Linked DNA regions of Homo sapiens. The protein of the gene in region 2 purifies or fractionates together with the protein of the main gene of each other region. This does not show direct contact. Each region holds a gene or a part of one and is shown on either strand. Other genes may lie near its edges. The genes, in order: LRPPRC and CPS1.

Region 1 (3,826 bases), about 170 Mb from region 2:
CAGATTTATGCGCTTGACACTATTTCACATTACAGGCATACCTTGGCTTTAATGCACTTTACAGATGTTGCGTTATTTACAAATTGAAGGTTTATGGTAACCCTGCCTTGGGCAAGTCTATCAATGCCATTTTTCCAACAATATGTGCTTACTTTGTGTCTCTGTGTCACATTTTGGTAATTCCTGGAATATTTCAACCTTTTTCATTATTGTTATATCTGTTACGGTGATCTGTGACCAGTGATCTTTGATGTTACTATTGTAATTGGGGGATGCTATGAACCATACACATGGAAGATGGCAAACTTGAGAAACGTGTTCTGACTGCGATGCTGACTAGTAATTCTCCTGTCTTCCTCTACTCAGGCCTCCCTATTCTGAGACACAACAATATTGAAATTAGGCCAATTAAAAACCCTATTATAGCCTCTAAGTGTTCAAGTGAAAGAGTCATACATCTCTCATTTAAATCAGAAGCGAGAAATGAAATGATTAAGCTTAGCTTAGTGAGGAAGGCATGTCAAAAGCCGAGATACGCTGAAAGCTAGGCTTCTTGCGTGGAACAGCCAGTTGTGAATGCAAAGGAAAAGTCCTTGAAGGAAATTAAAAAGGTGCTACTTCACTGAACACACAAATGATAAGAAACTGACACAGCCTTACTAGTGACATGGAGAAAGTTTTATTGGTCCGGATAGAAGATCAAACCAGCCACAACATTCCCTTAAAAGCCAAAGCCTAATCCAGTGCAAGGCCCTAATACTAGCAGAGGCTGGTTCATGAGGTTTAAGGAAAGAAGCCATCTCCATGACACGAAAGTCCAAGGTGAAGCAGCAAATGCTGATGCAGAAGCTACGGCAGGTTATCCAGAAAATCTAGCTAAGACCACTGATGAAGGCGGCTACACTAAACAACAGATACTCCATGTAGATAAAACAGTCTTATATTAGAAGATGTCATCAAAGATTTCATAGCTAGAGAGGAAAAGCTAATGCCTAGCTTCAAAGGACAGGCTGACTCTATTTTCAATGGCTAATGCAGCTGGTGACTTTATGTTGATGCCAATGCTCACTTACCATTCCCAAATCCTAGGGCCCTTAAGAATTACGCTAAATTTATTCTGCCTGTGTTCTATAAATGGAACAACAAAGCCTAGAGGACAGCATGGATGTTTATACATGGTTCACTGAGTATTTAAAGCCTGCTGTAGAGACCTACTGCTCAGGAAAAAAAAGATTCCTTTCAAAATATTACTGCTCAGTGATAATGCACCTGGTCACCCAAGAGCTCTGAAGGAGATATACAGGGAGATTAATGTTGTTCTCAGGTGCCCTAATAAAACATCCATTCTGCAGCCCATAGATCAAGGAGTAATCTTGACTTTCAAGTCTTAACACATTTTGGGCTCACTTCGGCAACACATATACTGAAATTGGAATGATACAGAGAAGATTAGCATGGCCCCTGCACAAAGATGACACGCAAATGTGTAAAGCGTTCCATGTTTTAAACATAAAATTAAAAAAAAAAAACATGTTTCATAAGGCTATAGCTGACACAGACAGTGATTCTTCTGATGGATCTGGGCAAAGTAAACTGAAAACCTTCTGGGAAGGGTTCACCATTTCTAGATGCCATTAAGAACATCTGTAATTGATAGGAGGTCAAATTATCAACATTAACAGGAGTTTGGGAGAAGCTGATTTCAACCCTCATGGATGAACCCCTTGAGGGTCTCAAGATTTCTGTGGAGGAAATCACTGCAGATGTGGAAATAGCAAGACAACTAGAAGGAGAAGTGGAGCGTGAAGACGTGACTGAATTGCTACAATCTCATGATCAGACTTAACATGAGGAGAAGCTGTTTCCTATGGATGACCAAAGAAAGTGGTTTCTTGAGAAGGAATCTACTCTTGGTAAAGATGCTGTGAACACTGTTGAGATGACAACAAAGGATTCAGAATATGACATAAATTTAGTTAATAAAGCAGTGGTATGGTTTGAGAAGATTGATTCCAATTTTGAAAAGACATTCAATTGCAGATAAAATGCTAACAAACAACATCGCATACTACAGAGAACTCTTTCGTGAAAGGAAAAGTCAGCTGATGTGGCAAACTTTATTGTTGTCTTAAGACATCTCAACCTTTAGCAATCATCACCCTGATCATTCAGCAGCCATCAACATTGAGCCAAGACCTTCTACCAGCAAGATTATGACTCACTGAAGGCACAGATGATCGTTAACTATTTTTAGCAATATCTTAAAATTAAGGTATGTACTTTTTAAAAACATAATGCTATTGCACACTTAATACACTACACTATGGTGTAAACATAACTTTTATATGCACTGGGAAACCAAAAAATTCATGTAACTTTGTTCATTATATTTGCTTTATTGTGGTGGTCTGGAACCATATCTTCCAGGTATGCCTGTGTTTAGTTACTGGAAATTTGATAAATTTTATGACTATTAGCTCTATTTTGAAATAATACAGAATGTTCTCCCTGTAAGGACGGAAAAAGAGAACTGACTTACTAATTCTGATTCTTGAGTCTGTTGTCCTCCCATAGATAAAATCAATGAAGCAATTCTTTATTTACCCCATGCCTCCAGTGAGCAAATCAGTGGGCCACAGATGGAGAGGTGATCATGATTGAGAAATGCTAACATTTATTTTGATGACTGAGGAAACTTTAGACAATTTCCTTTCATATGTGATTGTCTGGCAATCAGGGAACAAACTGGTTAAAAGACCAGAATTTGAACTGGGACGTAAAAACCTTGGGCTACTTTTTAATCAAGGGTCTGTCATTTCAAAGGAGTAGCAGGCAAGCAGAGAGGGTACTGAAGGAGCAAGAAGGCCAGTTAAGTGAGTCTCAAATGTGTACTTGTTTCAGGTGGCAGGCCCTTGGGGAGACTGAACTGGTTTCTGATATATAAGTCCAAGAGGATTTCCAGGTCTTCCCAGGAGCCTGGGATTCTACTCAATATACCCGGACTGCTCGGAAGATGTTCAGTGATACTTTTTAATGTTAAAGTTATATGCATAATTTCATATTTTTCTTAATAGTTTAAAAACATATTCCAGAACTGAGTTATTTATATCATAATTATCTGATATTTAGGATTACTGCCTTTGAGCTGAAGACTAAGACTTAGTTCACTATACTACAAGTCATTTACATGATATAGTCACTTAAATAATAAAGCCATTTAAATAAATAATATAGTCAAATTAAACTTATATTACCATAGCTTTTCATGAGGGAATTGTATGCTTCTTCCTTTTCATTTAATTCAGGAATCAATTCTAACACAGATTTCACAGTTGATGCCTAGGAAATTACATAAAGGTAATATTATGAAAACCGCAAATTAACAGTGAATTAGAACACTGACAAATCAACACTATATTAAAAATTTTCACAATAATTATAACAGAACTACCTATTAAATTTAATGCACTATTGTCCCTTGTATATTAGCATTTGATATTGACTCAATAATCTACAGCTAAAAGAAACCAGCATTTTTCCACAGGTTAATGCAATTCCACTTACATTTCTATGAATATTTTTCTAGAATATGATAAACACATTGCTTCTTTTGTCAAGTGGTGACCATACCAAGAAGTTATGAGATCCCAAGGGTAGAGAGATAACAACCCTATCTTTAGGTGCCACAACTGGTTGATGAAATTGTAAAGAATTCAGTTAAAACATTCTGAAGTGTTACACACTTGACATACAAAAAAGAGCATTTCCAGAATCTCACTGAAATTTTTACTTATTTCTTCCAGGAATATGCAGACTCGGCTATGGC
Region 2 (3,826 bases):
TTATATTCTATATTACTTTCTTGATTTGGTTATAAAATATATTACAACTCAGTTATATGTATATGAATGTGTTTTCATATGTGTATCTATACTATATAGCCAGATATATGGCCTCACCTTTTGAATAGGAAGACCTTCAAATCCAGCAAAATGGCCATGTAACATATGTAATATGTAAACAATCACATAGAGACTGTTAGCATATTAGTATGCTAATATTCAGGCAACTTTAACACTGTCAATTGCACCTTTAACACTGTCCATGTGTTGATGGTATCCAGGCAACTTTAACACTGTCAATGGTGTCACAAATTTAACAAAATAACTGAGAACAAGAAGAAAAGCGTAATAAACCAAGGACTCACCTCTCCTACACTTTTCATAGAGCTACCAATTCGGCTAGATGTTCCATGAAAACGGTCAAGATCCCAGCGGGGAATCTTGGTGACCATGTAATCCAGGCTAGGTTCAAAACAGGCTGATGTCTTCCCGGATACGACGTTCTTAATTTCTGGAAGTGGGATTCCTAGGGCAATCTTTGCAGCAATGAATGCCAATGGGTAGCTATAAAAAGAAGACAAATTTATTTTTTTTTCTTCGAGCAATTATTGAAAACAGACCAAAACATAAATTGGTCTTTCTTAAAATTTCTGGTATTATTCTACTTCAGGGTATAAGACACTTGATTCTCTGTTCTGCATCAATATTTAGTAGCCACTTGCGGAATAATAGGAGTCATGATACAAAGTATAGAGGCACAGGTCACAGGAGAATTTACTCTCTGTGCACTACATGCATTGCTACAACGCTCAACCTTCACCTCTTCAACCCAAAATCGATAGCTTTATTGATAAATAAAGTTTAACCTTTATTTGTATTTAACCTCCACTAAGATGAGAATCTGCAAAATATTTTTTGAGAAAATATATACATATCTGTACATATACATATCTGTACCTAAGAATACAGTGGAGTTAGCTAGTACAAGAGAGTACATAATGGTCAGAAAATGTAGGCATTTCAAGTTTGGGTCCTTGCTCTGTCTCCAAATTATCTTTGAACTTTGGGCTCCTTACAAAACTAACACTTTGAGAACTTGACTATCTTCATCCAGAATGTCAGTTTGGGTTATTCTGTTTGAGAAAATAATTCATAGAACTATAGAATTAAAAATGAGTTCTTTAGTACAACTTCCACCTAACAAATGAGGAAACTGATAAAGACAATGAGTGATGTGCTCAAAATCACACGGTCAACAGAAGAACCAAGTGAGAATGCAGAATTGTGACTCCTGTACAGGGCAACATGCCTTTCACCACTCCACGCAGTGCTGTGGAACTACGTAAAAAAAATATAAAGAAGTAAATATTGTGTTCATTTAAATGCCATAATTTAAGTGTAAGGTGCTAAATATATTATTAGAAACCAAAGGTTTTGATTACCTTTCCCTCCAATCATGCCTGCTAGTGGCTGTTACATAGACAGCAGATGTATTTGTTTGGTTGTAACAGTTACTTGTGAAAAAATTCCGCACTGTTCAGTCTTGTGGAGTTTTGATAAAATAAAAGTAATGTGTATTGCATGCTTGAGTCAAGTGAGCTATATTTTCTGTCAACTATTTGCTATAGGGCTATACACCTGAAGAAAACAGCTGAAGACTAAAATTAAGGATTAATCTGCACTTTTAACAACATCTGCAAAGTGCAATTAGGAAGCAGATTTTTCACAGCCTGCTTTAGCCACCTAGATTTTGATTCGTTTAGATTAGCCTGCAAACAAAGCCAGCTAGCAATATAATTTACCTCAATCTGGCAACAAGCTCATTAATAATCATGTCCTCAGGGTGCTATAAATGATTTGGAGCTAACATACAGAAAAAGGGAACATAGTTTGTAAATGCAGTACAGTCTTCCACTATCTGTCAATTTTTCATTTCTATCTGAAAAGAATCTGCAAACCCATGGTCAATTATTCTGGTCTTACCCAGTGGCTTTTGAGGCCAGAGCAGAGCTTCGGGACAGTCTGGCATTCACTTCAATGATGCAGTATTCCATTGAGGTAGGATGAAGGGCAAACTGAATGTTGCATTCACCCACAATGCCCAAGTGGCGAACAACATTGATTGAAGTACGTCTCAACATCTGAAACTCGGCATTGGAGAGTGTCTGGGCAGGAGCCACAACAACTGAGTCACCTATATATCCAAGAAGCACTCATTACTTGGTGGCATATTGAAATAACCAACTTCAGCGACTTAACCATCTACTTGCACGATGCAAGACATAGAACAGTCTGAGGGTTTGTTGGGATATATATGTGATATCAGGTATTCCCCCAATTCCTGTTTTGCCCATATTACTCTGATACAGTACTTTTAGAAACCTCTCTAACCTTTCCCAAGTTCATCTATCTAGTAAGTAGCTATCAAGGCTTCAATCGTCTACTTACTAGATTGACTTCAACTTCCCTGCTCTTCATCTCAAATTATTTCTGAAGTTCTTCCTTTCATTGAATATTATCACTCAGACTGGCTCATCAGCTGGCTTTCTGTATCTCATCCCTTTCCATCTTCACTTCCCTCATCATAGCCCCTTATATCTGCAATCTTAGTCTCCATCCCTTCTGCCTTCAAACACGCTCAGATCTTCACTGCCTCCGGAAGTCTTCTCCCAACATTGCCAGACAACCATACAAAGCTTCTCTCTCATTCTTTACATGAATGAGCTTCTTGAAAGTTTGCCAATTCTGCTTACCACTTGATACCATGTAATTCCTTTTAATAGAGCTCACAGAACTGACTTTGCAATGAAATTGTTCTCTTGGACATCCAAAAGAGCCAAATTAAATAATCAGTCTTGGTCTTGCATAGCATTTGATACTGCCAAAAACAAAGCTCTTTTATAAAATAGTTCTTGCATTGGCTTAGTTGGTACAGTACTACCTGATTTTCCTCTTAACTCTTTATTCTCCCCTTCTATCTTCAACAGTAATACTTCCTCTTTCCCCTGCCCTATAAATCTAAATGTTTCCCAGAGTTCAAAGTTCAACCCTATTCTCTCCTCTTTCTATACCTATGTCCTTGAATACTTTGTCTATGCCTACAACTTCAATTTCCCCTTTTATGCCAACAGTTTCCAGTGTCTTTGTATCAACTTATTTATTTCTATTTTATTTCTTAAATTCCATCTCCACATTCTCAACTCCCTTTTTTGACAGCTCTGCTCACACCCCAAATTTAGCACTTTTAAATCCTAAGTTATCATCTTTGCCCTCTTATCTAACTAGTGTACTTTTCTGAAAAACTTATTTCTATTATTGTGCCTATTTTCTCATTTACTGGGTGATTACCAGCTCAGTCTGCTTTAAACTGTCTCAACCTCCCTTCTTATTTCTCAACACTAAGTTTTATGGATCTTATTTCTACCATATTGCTTACCTTTGGCTCTTCCTCAATTAACTCAGTGTAATATCCGCCTTACTTCACAGGGTTTGTGTGAAGATCAAATTAAATGTGAGAACATTTTCAATACTGTAAAATACTATGCTTGTCCAAAATGTTATCACTAGTCTGTCAACTAGAAATAGTAATTTAAAGGCAACAACTTTATAAAGACTGCCTTGGCCATCAAAGACATGAACTGAAAGCATTACTATAGTTCTTGAAGATACTTTGCCTACCTGTGTGAACACCCATGGCATCAACATTTTCCATGTTACAGACAGTGACACAATTGTCATCAGCATCTCGAACCACTTCATATTCTATTTCTTTCCAACCTGTCACTGACTTCTCCACCAGAATTTGGTTGGTCATAGCAAAGGCCTA

What was found.
Region 1: the proteins of CPS1 (region 2) and LRPPRC fractionate together in Homo sapiens (co-fractionation; one large-scale study listed by BioGRID). This does not show direct contact.

The regions. Positions count from the first base shown.
Region 1 is NC_000002.12:43,891,291-43,895,116, forward strand, and holds part of LRPPRC (leucine-rich PPR motif-containing protein, mitochondrial precursor), read right to left. Parts: intron 3,340-3,826; coding exon 3,255-3,339; intron 1-3,254. UniProt on the Homo sapiens protein: May play a role in RNA metabolism in both nuclei and mitochondria. In the nucleus binds to HNRPA1-associated poly(A) mRNAs and is part of nmRNP complexes at late stages of mRNA maturation which are possibly associated with nuclear mRNA export.
Region 2 is NC_000002.12:210,605,099-210,608,924, reverse strand, and holds part of CPS1 (carbamoyl-phosphate synthase [ammonia], mitochondrial isoform b precursor), read right to left. Parts: intron 3,824-3,826; coding exon 3,679-3,823; intron 2,195-3,678; coding exon 1,984-2,194; intron 565-1,983; coding exon 366-564; intron 1-365. UniProt on the Homo sapiens protein: Involved in the urea cycle of ureotelic animals where the enzyme plays an important role in removing excess ammonia from the cell.